Regions from separate parts of the Homo sapiens genome. Here regions 1 and 2 are each linked to region 3. The links come from fine-mapping of genetic effects on gene expression. A gene starts in region 3. Each other region holds a variant in brackets. All regions are shown on one strand. Distances are between the middles of the regions.

The links. PIP is the estimated chance that this variant, and not a neighbour inherited with it, causes the effect.
Region 1: its variant is the best candidate, but not a certain one, in a credible set for the expression of ARRDC1 in whole blood (GTEx, PIP 0.52).
Region 2: its variant is the best candidate, but not a certain one, in a credible set for the expression of ARRDC1 in whole blood (INTERVAL, PIP 0.83).

Annotation. Positions count from the first base shown.
Region 1 is chr9:137,627,006-137,632,223 of GRCh38, forward strand. All of the region lies in intron 1 of EHMT1 (euchromatic histone lysine methyltransferase 1), which reads left to right. Among named protein-coding and RNA genes, the nearest start is that of EHMT1, 11 kb to the left of the region's middle. RefSeq lists an enhancer at 1,558-1,617. The variant C/T (reference allele first, on the strand shown) is at 2,814.
Region 2 is chr9:137,637,743-137,642,960 of GRCh38, forward strand. All of the region lies in intron 1 of EHMT1 (euchromatic histone lysine methyltransferase 1), which reads left to right. It also overlaps the pseudogene SETP5. Among named protein-coding and RNA genes, the nearest start is that of EHMT1, 21 kb to the left of the region's middle. The variant G/A (reference allele first, on the strand shown) is at 2,390.
Region 3 is chr9:137,603,320-137,608,537 of GRCh38, forward strand. ARRDC1 (arrestin domain containing 1) reads left to right here and starts at 2,367. Exons shown (of 8, transcript NM_152285.4): 1 at 2,367-2,516. The coding sequence starts at 2,399. It overlaps LOC124902318 (a long non-coding RNA gene), which reads right to left and starts at 2,019. Exons shown (of 3, transcript XR_007061885.1): 1 at 1,978-2,019. RefSeq lists silencers at 1,629-2,758, 2,769-3,038.

The sequences.
Region 1 (5,218 bases), 24 kb after region 3:
GGAGTGCAGTGGCCCCATCTCAGCTCACTGTGACCTCCATCTCCCAGGTTCAAGCGCTTCTCCTGCCTTCGCACCCCCTAGTAGCTGGGATTATAGGCGTGCGCCACCACGCTCGGCTAATTTTTGTATTTTTGGTAGAGACAGGGTTTCACCATGTTGGCCAGGCTGGTCTCAAACTGCTGACCTCAGGTGACCCACCCCCCTTGCCTCCCAAAGTGCTAGGATTGTAGGCATGAACCACCATGCCTGGCCATTTTTTTTTTTTTTTTTTTTTTGAGATGGCATCTCTTTCTGTCACCCACGCTGGAGTGCAATGGCGTGATCTTGGCTCACTGCAACCTCCACCTCCCGGGTTCAAACGATTCTCTTACCTCAGCCTCCCAAGTAGCTGGGATTACAGGTGCGCACCACCACTCCGGGATAATTTTTTTGTATATTTAGTAGAAACGGGGTTTCACCATGTTGGTCAGGCTGGTCTCAAACCCCTGATCTCAGGTGATTTGCCCACCTCAGCCTCCCAAAATGCTGGGATGACAGGCGTGAGCCGCTGCGCCCGTGATTTGCCCACCTCAGCCTCCCAAAATGCTGGGATGACAGGCGTGAGCCGCCGCGCCCGGCCCTTTTGCAGAGGTTCTGTCTGCTGGTTTGGTTTTCTTGAAGGATCCCTCAATTTCTTGCCTTGCTGGTATAAGCTGGATTTTTTTTTTTTTTTGAGACAGAGTCTTGGTCTTGTCGCCCAGGCTGGAGTGCAGTGGTGTGATCTCGGCTCACTGCAACCTCTGCCTCCTGGGTTCAAGCAATTCTCCTGCCTCATTACCCCCCCACCCCCAAGTAGCTGGGATTATAGTTGTGCACCACCACGTGTGGCTACTTTTTGTATTTTTAGTAGAGAGGGAGTTTCGCCATGTTGGCCAGGCTGGTCTTGAACTTCTGACCTCAAGTGATCCACCCTCCTGGGTCTCCCAAAATAATGGGATTACAGGTGTGAGCCACCATGCCCGGCCATTTTTGGTGGACCTTTTTATGGGGCTAAACGTCTGGTGTCTTGTGGCTACAGAAGACCAGTACTTGCTTGAGGAGGAGACCTGAGAGGTCAGCTGTTCTCAGGTGGAGTTTTGCCCGCATTCCCCTTTGTAGTTGCAGGCATCACCCCCATTGTCCCCACCCTTCTGTGTTTTCTGGGGTCAGTCTGCCAGCTGCTCAGCTGCAACTCCTTTATTTAAGTTTCTCCTTCCTCTACTCTGTGGGATAGGTTAGCTCTCCTCTACCTCTCTGTCTTCCTATTTGTGTTCTATTTAGGGATTTCACATGTCTTGGGGTTTATGTGTCTCTTTCCTGCTTTTCTTGTCTTTGATTGATTTTTGCTAAGAGAAGAGAGGATCAGAATCAATTTTTCTTTTTTTAAAATTACTTAAACATTTAATTTTTAATTACACAATATAATTTATAAAACATTTTGTAGAGATGGAGTCTCACTGTGTTGCCCAGGCCGATCTCCAACTGGGCTCAGGCGATTCTCCCGCTTTGGCCTCTGAAAGTGTTAGGATCACAGGCGTGAACTGCTGTGGCTGGCCTGAGAAGCATTTTCCATAAATCTTGAGAAGCAGATTCTTCCGTAAACTAGAAGCACAGCTGTCCTATGAAAAGGGCTGCCTGTCTTCGGATCTTACTATGTCAGTTGTTGGTTGTGGTCGGAAGGTTCTGGAGTCATAGTAAGGGCCAGCAAGGGTGATGTTTGTGCCTCAGCTCTAATGTCGAAAAGAGCGTCTGTGGCTACCTTAGTTGCTGGAGATCCCACACGTGGCCAGAGCCAGAGGTGGGGCTAGAGCCCTGGTTTCCTTCTTCTGCTTCCTGTCATGTGCTGAAAGAGCTGTGTAGGTTTGACCACATTTTATTGAGTTTTTCTTTGAAAATAATTTGGCTTATAAGAATCATGTTTTGGATTCTTTAGGAACTTTATTTTTTTTTTCAATCATTTCATTGGATTAAGCATGGTTGATGGATTACTTTATCCTAAGGTAAGTGGGCAGTTTGATTTTAAGTTGCTCACTCAGCAAACCAGGTAGGGAATAGTTATTTGCTTTTGTATTTTTTTTTTTTTTTTGAGATGGAGTTTCGCTCTCGTTGCCCAGGCTGGAGTGCAGTGGTGCAATCTTGGCTCACTGGAACCTCCGCCTCCCAGGTTCAAGCGATTCTCCAGCCTCAGCCTCCCGAGTAGCTGGGATTACAGGCGCCCACCACCATGCCTGGCTAATTTTGTATTTTTAGTAGAGATGGGATTTCTCTATGTTCGTCAGGCTGGTCTCAAACTCGTGACCTCAGGTGATCTGCCTGCCTCGGCCTCCCAAAGTGTTGGGATTACCGGCGTGAGCCACCACACCTGGCCAGTTTTTTTGTTGTTGTTGTTAAATGGAGTCTCGCTCTGTTGCCCAGGCTGGAGTGCAGTGGCGTGATCTCGGCTCACTGCAAGCTCCGCCTCCTGGGTTCTCGCCATTCTTCTGCCTCAGTCTCCCAAGTAGCTGGGACTACAGGCGCCCACCACCATGCCTAGCTAATTTTTTGTATTTTTAGTAGAGACAGGGTTTCACTGTGTTAGCCAGGATGGTCTCGCTCTCCTGACCTCGTGATCTGCCCGCCTCTGCCTCCCAAAGTGCTGAGGTTACAGGCATGAGCCATCGCACCTGGTCCAGTTTTTTGTATTTTTAGTAGAAACGGGGTTTCACCATGTTAGCCAGGCTGGTCTCGAACTCCTGACCTCAGGTGATCCGCCCACCTCGGCCTCCCAAAGTGCTGGGATTATAGGCATGAGCCAC[C/T]GCACCCGGCTGAGAATAGTTATTAGAGCCCAGTTAATTTGGCCTATGGCAGGTATGATATAGAAAGCATTACTTCCAGGACTGAGAATTCTCCTTTCTTACTGTTTTGCTTCTCTTTAACTTTTAATATTTTCATGTATTAAAAAAAAATCTGATGATTTTGGATTTTGAAAAACAAAGCTAAAGTGGCTGCTATAACTCTTCAGAGGTAGCATTTCCTTTGAAATGGAGTCTCTTGGATAAGAGGCCACTTTCCCAGGAACATCACTGTGAGCTGCTGTTTCATTCTGGAAAAGCTTGTGGATTTCTTTCTGTATTCTAGTTGTAATAGGCTGGTTCTGATCACAGTATATTTAAGATGCTGTTTTGAGCACTTTCTGTTTATGCAGTGCAATTCTAGGTATTTGTAAGAGGACATACAAAGTTTTGAGATTGATCCCTGATGTTACAAAATTTAATAATAGAACAGAGCAAATATTACTGAGTAGGAAATGAGAGTCAGTTAAAAGTAAACAAGAAGAGGCTGCTGGATGGCCACAATTGCTGCGGCCACATGTGTGGGGAAAAGTTCCTTGAGGAAGATGAGTTAGTCTAGGTCTTTTTTTTCCTTTAACAGCTTCTTGTCCAACACATAGTCTAGGTCTTAAAGGATGTGAGACATGAATTGGCATGAGAAGGTGGACAAAGTGTACATTAACAAAAATTAGGCATTTTAGCAAATTTAGAAATCAAACCTAGAAACCTCAGGATGCCATATATTTGTCATCTGTTTTTTTCCTGATCCTCGTGAGTGTATGTGTTTTTATTTAAAATTGGTGGTAATCAGTGATTATGTGCCGTTGTACTTCCTCTGTCCCGTATTGTCTGACGTGCATTCGTATCTTCAGTGTTTTTGGTAGCTGCATGGTGTGTGACATAGAAAAGTCCCAGTTTCCTCGACTGTGATTTGGGTGAGGTCTGTATCCTTTGGTGCACAGTGGAATTACAAGGTCAGAAGGGGATAGTGGCATGAGATGAAGCTGGAGAGGCAGGGCAAGGTTATCCAGGGCCTTGTTACCATGGTAACAAGTTGGGAAGTTTCATAACCACTGTAGACAGTCCTTGAAGATTTTAGGCATGGAATGATACTTTAAAAAGATGACCCTGGCTGCTGTGTGGAGAGCGGAAGTAGGGGGCCAGTGAGCAGGCTTGGCTTGAGTGGTATGGGTTAGTCATGATATAGGTGTTTAGATTTAATTTTTTGAGCATATAGGACAGTTACATGGTTCAAAATTGAAAAAGTATGGCCGTGTGTGGTGGCTTATGCCTGTAATCCCACCACTTTGGGAGGCCGAGGCGGGTGGATTGATCACCTGACGTCAGAAGTTCAAGAGCAGCCTGGCCAACATTGGTGGAACCCTGTCTCTAATAAAAATATAAAAAAATTAGCCGGGCGTGATGGCGGGCGCCTGTAATCCCAGCTACTCGGGAGGCTGAGGCAGGAGAATCGCTTGAACCCGGGAGGTGGAGGTTGCAGTGACCTGAGATCGTGCCATTGGACTCCAGCCTGGGTAACAAGAGTGAACCTCTGTCTTGGAAAAAAAATAAAAATAAAAATAAAATAAAATTGAAAAAGTACCTCCCTAGCCACTAGTTCTTCTCTTGGCAGGTCACCAGTATTTAATTACTGTGCATATTTCATGATGTTTATGAATATACAGTCATGTGGCACTTAAGGACATTTTGGTCCGTGGCAGACCACATACATGAAGGTGGTCCCCTAAGATTAGAATGAAGGTCAGGCGTGGTGGCTCACACCTGTAATCCCAGCACTTTGAGAGGCTGAGGCAGGAGGATCACTTGAGCCCAGGAGTTCAAGATCAGCCTGGACAACATAATGAGACCCTGTCTCTACAAAAAATAATGAAAAATTAGTTGGGCATTGTGGTGTGTGCCTGTAGACCCAGCTACTCCGGGAGGCTGAGGTGGGGAGAGTTGTTTGACCAGGAGGTCAAGGCTGCAGTGAACCGTGTTGGTGCCACTGCACTTCAGTCTGGGCAGCAGAGTGAGACCCTGTCTCAAAAAAAGAAAAAAAAGATTATAATAGAGGCTAGAAATTCTTACTGCCTAATCACGTCGTGGGCATTGCTTTGTAGTAGGGTAGTGCACTGCCTTTTCTGTGTTCAGACGCACATGTGTCATTGTGTTGCACTTACCTGCAGTAACGCGCTGTGCAGGTTTATAGCCTGGAAGCCATGGGCTACACCACACAGCCTAGATGTGTAATAGGTTTGCAGAAGTGCACTCTTTGACGTTTGCACAGTGATGAAATCACCTGATGACGCATATCTCCGAATGTATCCCCCTCATTCAGCGTCACTTAGATGCAGTAGATGTTACTGTCCTGTCGAGGGGTTCGATGACTT
Region 2 (5,218 bases), 34 kb after region 3:
AAGCACTGGTTATCACGCCTTTAAATGTTTGGTATAATTCACCTGCGAAGCCATCTGGATCTTGGCTTTTCTTTGTTGGAAGCTTTAAAAATTATTAATTTCCTTATTTGTTCTAGGTGTGTAGGTTTTCTGTTTATTCCTGAGTTATCTTTGTTGTTGTGGGTCTTTCTGAGAATTTGTTCATGGCATCCAGGTTATCTAGTTTCCGGTATGCAGTTGCTCGTATGTTCCCTGTGACCATTTTTATTTCTGTCAGGGCTTGTGTTCCCCTTTGACGCTAATAAATTTTGGTAAGTGGGGTCATTTTTCTCTTTTTCTTGGTCATTCTAGCTAAAGTTTTGTGAATTATGTTGAATTTTTCAGAGAAGCAACTTTTTTTTTTTTTTAAGATGGAGTCTCGCCCTTTTGCCCAGGCTGGAGTGCAGTGGTGCGATCTCGGCTCACTGCAAGCTCCGCCTCCTGGGTTCAAGCAATTCTCCTGCCTCTGCCTCCTGAATAGTTGGGAATATAGGCGTGCGCCACCATGCCCAGCTAATTTTTTGCATTTTTAGGAGACGGAGTTTCACCATGTTGGCTGTGCTGGTCTCGCGCTCCTGACCTCAGGTGATCCACCCACCTCAGCCTCCCAAGTAGCTGAGATTACAGGCACCCGCCACCACGCCCGGCTAATTTTTGTATTTTTAGTAGAGATGATGTCTCACCATGTTGGCCGAGGTGGTCTCAAACTCCTGACTTCAAATGATCCACCCGCCTTGGCCTCCCAAAGTGTTGGGATTGCAGGCATGAGCCACTGCACCCGGCCTAGTTTTTTACTAGTTTCTTAATGCTTTTAGCTATGTTATAGAATAAATTGCATTCCCCTAAAAAATATGTTGAAGTCCTAAACCCCATACTTCAGAATTTGACCTTATTTGGAAATAGGGTCATTGCAGATTAGTTAAGATGAAATCATAGTTGAGTAGGGTAGGCCTCTAATCCAGTATGACTTACGTGTCCTCATAAAAAAAAAAGGATGCCTTGTGAACACAGACATGCACAGAAGGAAGACAGCATGCGGACACACAGGGAGAAGTGGCGCATGACTGGGGTGATGCTTCCATAAGCCAAGGAGTGTCAGGGACGGCCAGCAGACCCCAGAGCCTGGCCGAGGCAGGGGATGGCACTCCAAAGCCATTACAGACCACAAGGCCTACTGACACCTTCATTGTGGACTTCCAGCCTTCAGAACTTCGAGACCATACATTTCTATTGTTACATGTGTCCTAGGAAAAAACAGGCTGCTTCCTATAAATGTTGATATGTTGTATTTTCATTTTTATTCAGTTCAGAATATTTTCTATTTTCCCTTGTGACTTTAGAAGTGTGTCATTTAATTTCTAAATATTTAGGTATTTCCTGGATTTCTTTGTTTTGTTGATTTCTAATGTAATTCCTGTATGGTCAGAATTATACTTTGTATAGTTTCAGTGTGTTTAATTTGTTAGATTAAAAAAAAAATCCCGTATTATATTCTGTCCTGGGGAATGTTTCATCAGTGCTTGAAAATAATGTGCATTATGAATTTATTAGGTGGAATGTTCCCTATATGTCAGATTGAATTGGTTGATAGTATTAAGTCTTCCTTATTCTTTCTCATTTTCTTTCTAGTTCTATTAGTTATTGAGAGTAGAGTATGAGATCTACAGTACTGTCGAATTTTACATTTTCACTTTCAGTTCTGTTGGTTTTTGCCTCGTGTTTTGAGACTATGTTATCTTGCGTGTGTTTATAGTTGTTACATCTGCCTGGGTGTTTTGACACTTCTCTCATTATGAAATGTCCCTCTTTGTCTCTATAAATGTTTTTGTTTTAAAGTCTATTTTGTCTGATGTCAGTATAGCCACTTCAGTTTTTTTATGGTTTATTTTTGCATACTATATCTTTTTCTGGCCTTTTAATCTCTTTGTATCTTCAATCGAAGGGATGTCTCTTACAGTCCTTTCCATCTGAGATCGGATCTTGTAGATTCAGCAGTTGAATCATATATATGTATTTTTCTTACCTGATAGAAGAGATTTTATTTTTAAAGTGTCACCTTAGACTGCAAGGATGTCTGTTGTACCTCCCCATTAATCAGCCAGAGGAGGAGCTGTGATATCAGAATGCCCACTCAACCCACCAGACATTTGAGACCCACCCTTTGCTGGCCTTCTGTAACCTTATTTATTTAGAGACGGAGTCTCGCTCTTGTTGCCCAGGCTGGAGTGCAATGGCGCGATCTTGGCTCACCGTAACCTCTGCCTCCCGGGTTCGAGTGATTGTCCTGCCTCTGCCTCCCGAGTAGCTAGGATTACAGGCATGTGCCACTGTGCCCGGCTAAGTTTTATATTTTTAGTAGAGATGGGGTTTC[G/A]CTGTGTTGGCCAGGCTGTTCTTGAACTCCTGAACTCAGGTGATCCGCCTGCCTCGGCCTCCCAAAGTGCTGGGATTACGGGTGTGAGCCACCGTGCCTGGCCTGTAACCTTATTTTTTAAAGCTTTTAATTTTAATTTTTGTTTTGTTTTATTTTTGTGTGTTTTAGAGACCTGGTCTTGCTGTTACCCTGGCTGGAGTGCAGTGGCGTGATCATAGCTCACTGCAGCCTTGACCCTGGGCTCAAGCAGTCCTCCCACCTTGGCTTCCTGATCAGCTGGGACCACTGGCATCTGCCACTATGTCCAGCTAATTTTTAAATTTTTTGTAAAGATGGGGTCTTCCTATGTTGCTCAGGCTGGTTTTGAACTCCTGGCCTCAAGTGATCCTCCCATCTTGGTCTCCCAAAGTGCTAGGATTACAGGTGTGCACCCCTGTGCCTGGTCTGAAATTTTCTTTTTTTAATCAAGAGCAAGTAGATACATGTTTTCTCTGAGCCCAATATGCAGAGAAGGAAAAAATGCTAGAATTCTCTGCATTATAGGGGCCTGGCGCCCTTTAGCTTCCAACAGTGCAAAGGGGGCAGAAAGTTGTTCTTTTTTCCATAGAACATGGTGATGTTGATTCCATACAAGTTTGTTGAGATAGGAAGGGATAAAAATGAGTTTGAAACAGAAAGAGGTAGAGATTCTTTTCACATTTTATTCTCCTCAAGGTATTTCCCCCCCAGATAAGTTGAGATCCACGGTGTAGACAAAAGAGACCTCAAGAACTGGGTGAGCACAAGAGGGAAAAAGCAAGACTGCACCTTGCTCCCGGGAACTGGAGACAGCTTTAAAAAAGGAAGGTTCTAATCCATGTGTGTTCTATTAGTTATCTTCTCCTTATCCCGTTCCTCATCAGTGTCTTCCAGTTCCTCCTCCTCATCATCTTCGTCTTCTCCTTCTTTATCATCCATATTGGGAACCAAGGAGCACTGTGATGAATTTGGCCAAGTATGGTCTTTGCTGACCTCTCCTAACTCATCTGCACCTGCGTCAGAATGGCCAGTAAACCAGGTGAAGAACCTGTCTGGTTCCTCAGGATGCCTCTTCCTACTGGCTTTATTCTGCATTTGACTTGAAGAGTTTCCTTTCCAGATTTCCATTTGATTTCCGTGGACTTTGAAGATGGATCATGACTCTCATTCAGATGAAATTCTTTGAGAGAGCTTTATTTTTGAAGTAAGGATTTTCGTCAAAATAAAAACCTATTCTGTAACCTGATTTAATATCTTCAAATTCTGTCACTTCAGCACTGGTCAAACAATGCAGTGCCTCTTCATCCTCCTCCCAAGCAGTGCAGACGCTTGTGGATGGCTGACAAATGTTATTACCCAGAAATTGGGGATTTTGGGAATCAATTCTCATCTGCCCTGAAGAACGTGGTTGGCCGAATTTGTCTATGTTCGCTCTCCCAGTCCGCTTGCCGCTCACTTGCTAAGCCTGTTTCTGAAGCCTGTTTTGTGCTGTGCTTCCTCGTGGGCTTGGTTGCCGCTTGTTCTGTTCCTCTCTTCCTCTGGCCTCTGTCAGGGGCTGGCGCCATGTCTTCCTTTCAGGCAGGGGCAGAGACGGGTGTTTGGGGGTCATTCCGGGAGGAGAGTCTGGACCCAAGGGCCTCCTTGCTCATCAGGAAGAAGCTCATAGGACTAAGATCACATTTTTTTTTTTTTTGACATGGAGTCTCGCTCTGTCACCCAGGCTGGAGTACAGTGGCATGACCTTGGCTCATGGCAACCTCTGCCCCCATGCCCTCCAACTCCATGGTTCAAGCTGTTCTCCTGCCTCAGCCTCCTGAGTAGCTGGGACTACAGGCACCCACCACCATGCCTGGCTAATTTTTGTATTTTTAGTAGAGACGGAGTTTCGTCAAGTTGGCCAAGCTGGTCCTGAACTCCTGACCTCAGGTGATCCACCCGCCTCGGCCTCCCAAAGTGCTGGGATTACAGGTGTGAGCCACTGCGCCCGGCCCCAAATTTTTTAATCTATTCCCCCAGTCTCTACTTTTCATGTGGGACAGGTAATGCGTTTCATCTAATGTAATTACTGAAAGGTAGGGTTTATACTTGTCGATTTTGTATTTGCTTTCTGCGTCTTCTGTCTTTTTTGTTACTTTCTGCCTCAGTTAGTTTTTGTTCTTCATGGAGATGGAGTTTCACTATGTTGCCCAGGCTGGAGCGCAGTGAGTATTCATAGGCATGATCATAGTGCACCGTGGCCTTGAACTCCCGGGCTCACAGGATCCTCCCACCTCAGCCTCCTGAGTAGCTGGGACTGCAGGCGTACCACAACGCCTGACTCATTGCTTTCTTCTTTTGTGTTAGATATTTTCTAGTGTATACCATTTTAATTCCCTTGCTGTTTATTTGACTGTATTTTTTATTTGTTTTCTTGGTTGTCCTGGGGATTACAATTTAGTATATTAATTTTTGATAATGTAGTTTGTATTAATACTATATTACAATACTATATGAAATATTTATTTGGGCATAGCTTAATTTCTTTTGCCCTTCTTGTACTGTTATTGTCATACAAATTACATTACACTGTGTGCCCATCTACGCAGATTTATAGTTGCTGCTTTACGCAATTGTCTTTCAAATCATATAGGAGAAAAAACAAATTATAAATTAACAAATACATTTATACTGTCTTATGTAGCTGCTTTTATACTTTACCTGTGTAGCTGCTTTTACTGGCGCTCTTGATTGCATTCCCCTCCCCTCCCCTCTTGACAGGGTCTCGCTCTGTCACCCAGGTGGGAGTACAGTGGCACAATCATAGCACTGCAG
Region 3 (5,218 bases):
AGGTAGAGGGATCCTGCGAAAAGATATCTCTACACCCGAAAGCTCCAGGGGAAGCCAGGTTTTCATGAGAGTGCAGCTAGAAGTATGCTTGGAGAAGAAGAGTCTAATGACAGGGCGGTTGGTGCTGGTGGTGGTTTCTGGAACACAGGATGGGTGGGAGATAGGGTCAGAATCAAGGATGTGCAGAGTCCTGTGGGGCTTAGATTGTGGCTGACCTGGGATAAAGGCCACCTGTGTTCTGTGTCCATTGTCTTCCATCTCAGTAGCTTGCAATACAGTCTGTCTGTCCCTTGCTTGAAACACTTTCTTTTTTTTCTTTTTCTGTTTTTTTTTTTTGAAATGGAGTCTCACTCTGTTGCCCAGGCTGGAGTGCAGTGGCGTGATCTTGGCTCACTGCAAGCTCCGCCTCCTGGATTCACGCCATTCTCCTGCCTCAGCCTCCCAAGTAGCTGGGACCACGGCGCCTGTCACCACGCCCGGCTAATTTTTTTTTTTCTTTTTGTATTTTTAGTAGAGACGGGGTTTCACCATGTTAGCCAGGATGGACTCGATCTCCTGACCTCGTGATCCGTCCACCTCGGCCTCCCAAAGTGCTGGGATTAGAGGTGCGAGCCACCGCGCCCGGTGAAACACCTTCTTTCTGACTTCTGGCATGGCCGACTGCCATTCGGGAGGGCTGTCCACAATCCTTGCCATCCCATGGCACCCTTCTCTCTTGTTCGGGAATTCTGCCTGTGCATAGCCTTGGCAGGAAAGTGTCTGGAGCATGGCCAGTTAGACCCACCTCCGGAAACATCGGAATCCTAAGGGAGTGAGCTGGGCCTGGGGCTTCAGGGCCTCTCCCAGCCTGGCCCGGGGGCCCCTCCAGCCTGTGAGCCCCTTTCTCTTTGCTGGGGTGCCAGACTCCTCCTCCCTGACCTGTTACCTTCTACCAACTAGGGATGGCAACATTTTAGTGCTTGACTCCCAGGCTCATGCACGGAAGTACTTGGTCCATTGGGGATCAGTGGCACCTCAGACTCTGCATGTGATGACCCTCCCACCCCCAAACCATGTGTATCTAGGTCCGTCCTCCCCATCAGAGAAGGCCACCCTCTTCACCGGCTGTCCTAGAAAAACTCGCAGCACTGGGGCCCGCACACCCACTCCGTGGTGAGCTGGTCCTTGTCGAGCGACGCCTTCCCTCTCCAGGACTACCCAACCGGTCTCTCCCGCCTTAGGTCCCCTGGGTATTTGAGTCCCACCCCCCGCGGCTCACTCTCTACAAAGGGACCCTTTAAAAAAGATAAATGGGAGTGTGTTCCTCCTGGTTTCAAGTGATCCAAGTCCTCGCCCCACCTGGCCCCCGACCCTTCTGCTGCGGACCCCTGCCCAAGGGCCTCCGCCCAAGTGTGGCTCCCTTGGGCCCACACCCCATCAGGCCAGCAAGGAGGGGGATAGCGGGGGGCGGGGCAGGTGCTGGGACTCCGGGCAGGTGCGGGGAAGGCAGGGGGCGGGGGGGGAAGGGGTTGGGCGATGCAGGTGTTGGGGGCCGGGACAGTTGCGGGGGTAGGCAGGTACCGGGAAGGCGGGAGGGCGGGCAGGTTCCGGAGGGGCGCGACAGGTGCTGGGACGCGAGGTAGGTGCGGAGAAGGTTGGGGGTGCGGGGCAGGAGCCGGGGGTGGGGGTTGAGGCGGGGCAGGTCCTACGCGGCGGAGCATCCCCGCCCAGGACGCCCGCGCGGCCCCGTGACGTTTTTCCGCGACTCGGGGTGAGGGAGACCCCTGGGCGGGACGGGCGGAGGGTGGGGGCGGAGGAGTGGGTTCTGCCCGCAGCAGAGTGCAGCGGGGAGACCTTCCCAGTCTCAGAGCTCGCCTCGGCCCCGCCCCCAGCCCTGCCCCCCGACGGAGACGCGGCGGTGACTCCCTCCGTGGGGGACGCACGGGACGCTTGCGCCTCAAGTCCCTTAAGCGGCGCCCGACGCAGCGCAGCACCTACCCAGCCGGGACAGGGCCAGGGCCGGGGATGGATGAGCGCGGCCGGGGGGCGGGGCAGGGGTGGGGCGGCCGAGGCAGGGGCGGAGCTGGGAAGGCGAGGCAGGGGCGAAGGGCGGGGGCGGGGCGAGGAGGCTGTCAGAGGGGCGGGGAATAACGAGGGGGCGGGGCCACACGGACGGATGGGGCGGGGAATAGGGGCTGGGCCGGGCCTCCGAGCGGCAGTCCGCGGGCTACGGGGCGGCCGGGGGGCTGGGCGGGGCCGTGGGGCGGGGCAGGGCCTGGGAGGGGCCGGATGGGGGTGGAGGCCGGGATTGGGACGGATGGGGGCGGGGCATAGGAGGGGGCGGGGCCGGGCCTCGGAGCCGGGACTCGCGGGCGGCGGGCGGGGGCGTCGCTGCGCGGCTGGCCGGTGAGGCCGCGGCATGGGGCGAGTGCAGCTCTTCGAGATCAGCCTGAGCCACGGCCGCGTCGTCTACAGCCCCGGGGAGCCGTTGGCTGGGACCGTGCGCGTGCGCCTGGGGGCACCGCTGCCGTTCCGAGGTGGGCGCGGGTCCTCGGGGAGGGCCTTTGGCCGCACCTGCGCGGGGCCAGGGCTCCCGGAAGCGGCTGCCGTCGCCTGGCCCCGGGTTGGGCCCGCGGAGTCGCTGTCTTCGCCGCCCGGGACTGCTGGGAAGCGGGCTCGGCGGCGCCGGGGAGGTCCGGGCGGCGCCGCCCTTCCGCGTCTGCCCTTCCTGCCCTCTCGCCGAGGGGCGGCGGGGTCCCGGCGGGGCCTGAAGCGGGTCCACTGTGGAGGACGCCCTGAGCGCGGGCGCACGCAGGCCTGCGACCCTCCCCGTCCGCGCTCGCACCTGCTGGGCTCCTTCCCGCACCCTGGCTCCCGGCGCAGGCGCTCCCGCTGCAGAGCCGCTCCTGGCGCGGGCGTGCGGTCCCGGCGGGGTGCAGACACCTGCTGCGGCTCCCTGCGCCCCCTGCCACCCGCCAGCAGGCCTCGCCGGCCCCCCGCCGAGGTGGACGCCTGGGCCTCGGGGACTGGGTATCGGGTTGCTGCAGTGGCCGCTGGCAGGGCGCCCTGGAGGTGAGGGCCGGCCCGCGAGGTGAGGCTGCCTCTGCCCGGCCCTTGGCTGTGAGTGCCGCGTCCCTGCCGGGGACTTCTCTACCTTGGCCTCCTGTGGGAACCACCTGGGCTGCTTGGCCTGTGCCACAGCCCCTGGACTTGCCGCTGGACCTTGACCGCTGGGCCCGCGCGTGGGTAACAGCACCGATTTTGTGCCTGCTGAGAACCCACAGTCTCTGTTCTGTCCTCTCAGCCTCCTGGGACAGGTGATGGTGCTGTGGCCCTGACCCTGCACCGCCTGAGGCTGTGGGGCCTCGGAAGAAGCCGGGTGGTAGGTGCTTCTGTCAGGCTCCTGGCCCCACTGGGCCTCCTGGGATGACCCCACAGCCTCCCTTCCTCTGTCCCAACCTTGAGTTTGGGGTCTGGGTGGGGGCAGGTGTGGCCGTGGCAGGGCAGAGATAGCACACACATCTCTTGGGTACAGGTGTGGTGTGTGGTGAGGCCGGCTGGATCCTGGTTGAGGGCTGTGCAGGACCCTGTCGTCCTTCCCCTGGCGTGGCCTGGGGTGAGCAGGCCATTGCTTACCACAGGGAAGGGACGGCCCCGCGGTGCGTGACTGGCCTGGGTGTGCAGGCTCCCCTGGCCTCCGGGTGGACGTGGTGGGTGGGTTGAATGCTCACGCCTGTAATCCCAGCACTTTGGGCAGCTGGCCCAAGAGCCGAGGGAGCACTGGCTGATGGTCCTACCTCACAGAGGCTGGTCTGAATGAGGGAGAAAAAGGAGGGTCGTGAGCTAAGGAGTAGGAGATGGGCCCTGATGGGCCAGAGAGCACATGATTCAGGCTGCTGCAAGTGAGGTGGGAGGGTGTACCGGGGCCCCCGGGGGTTTCCCCCAGCCCTGCCTGGGATGGGAACAGAAGGACCATGGTTTCTTTTCCTCATTCAGAGGATGCTTGTCAATCCTGCTAGGAGCCAGTAGGGAGGCCCTCAGCCCCCAGGAGGACAGCAGCCCTGCCTGGGCCCCAGAGCTTGCTCACTTACTCTGCCGATGAGTGTCGGTGACAGTCAGCACCCAGCCGTGAGGACACCGGCTGTCTAAAGGGCTGACGCGGAGGGAGGCCTGGGAGGGAGCAGTTTTCTGGAGCTCAGGCTGGCCCAGTCCAGGGCTGGGGTTCAGGCAGGACCACTTCTTGTTCTGCTGTTACTGGGATGGGCGACCAGGGCCGACAGTGGTTCTCGGAGCACTCATGGTGGGCCCGATGCAATTCTCTCCACGTGCCACGGGCCAGCCTCAGTTAACCCTCAGCGCCCTGGCAAGTGGCACGGTTGTTACTCTCATGATACAGATTTGGAAACAGGACTGGGGGAGTGGCTTACAGGTCACAGCTTCTGTGGCAGGCGTGAGTCCTTTGGGATGAGGATGAGGAGTGGGTGGGTCTTCATGGTCCAAGTGCAGGTGGTGCAAGGGAGGGGCTGCTGAACAGGTGGGAGCCCCAGCTGGAGAAGAAAGTTCCAGTGGTCACTTGAGAACGCAGCCCAGTCATGATCTTCCTTAGAGTCAGAGAGGCCTGCAGCCTCCAGCAGCTTGTCCTTGCTTGTGCATCTGAACACAGGAAACATTTTTTATTTTTATTTTTTTAATTTATTTTTTCGAGACGGAGTCTCCCTCTGTCGCCCAGGCTGGAGTGTGCCGGCGCGATCTCGGCTCACTGCAAGCTCCGCCTCCCCGGTTCACGCCATTCTCCTGCCTCAGCCTCCTTAAGAGCTGGGACTACAGGCGCCCGCCACCACACCCGGCTAATTTGTGTATTTTTAGTAGAGACGGGGTTTCACCGTGTTAGCCAGGAGGGTCTGGATCTCCTGACCTCGTGATCCGCCCGCCTCGGCCTCCCAAAGTGCTGGGATTACAGGCGTGAGCCACCGTGCCTGGCCAGGAAACATTTTTTAAACCTGCATGGGGGAGGAGGGACAGGGCTTGCAGGGCCCCTGCAAAGAGGTGCAACGTTCAAGTCCAGAAGGCGGAAGAAGTCACACTCTGACTAGGGGACTGCCACTGAGCCACTCAGTCCTGCAGCCAAGCCCTGCCTGGTGGCTTTCCTGTTGCGAAAGGCTCGGTTCCCTTCAGCGTGTTCTGCCATCACAAGCAGTCTGCAAGCTGGAAAGAAGAGGGAGCGGGGTCGTATGCCGCC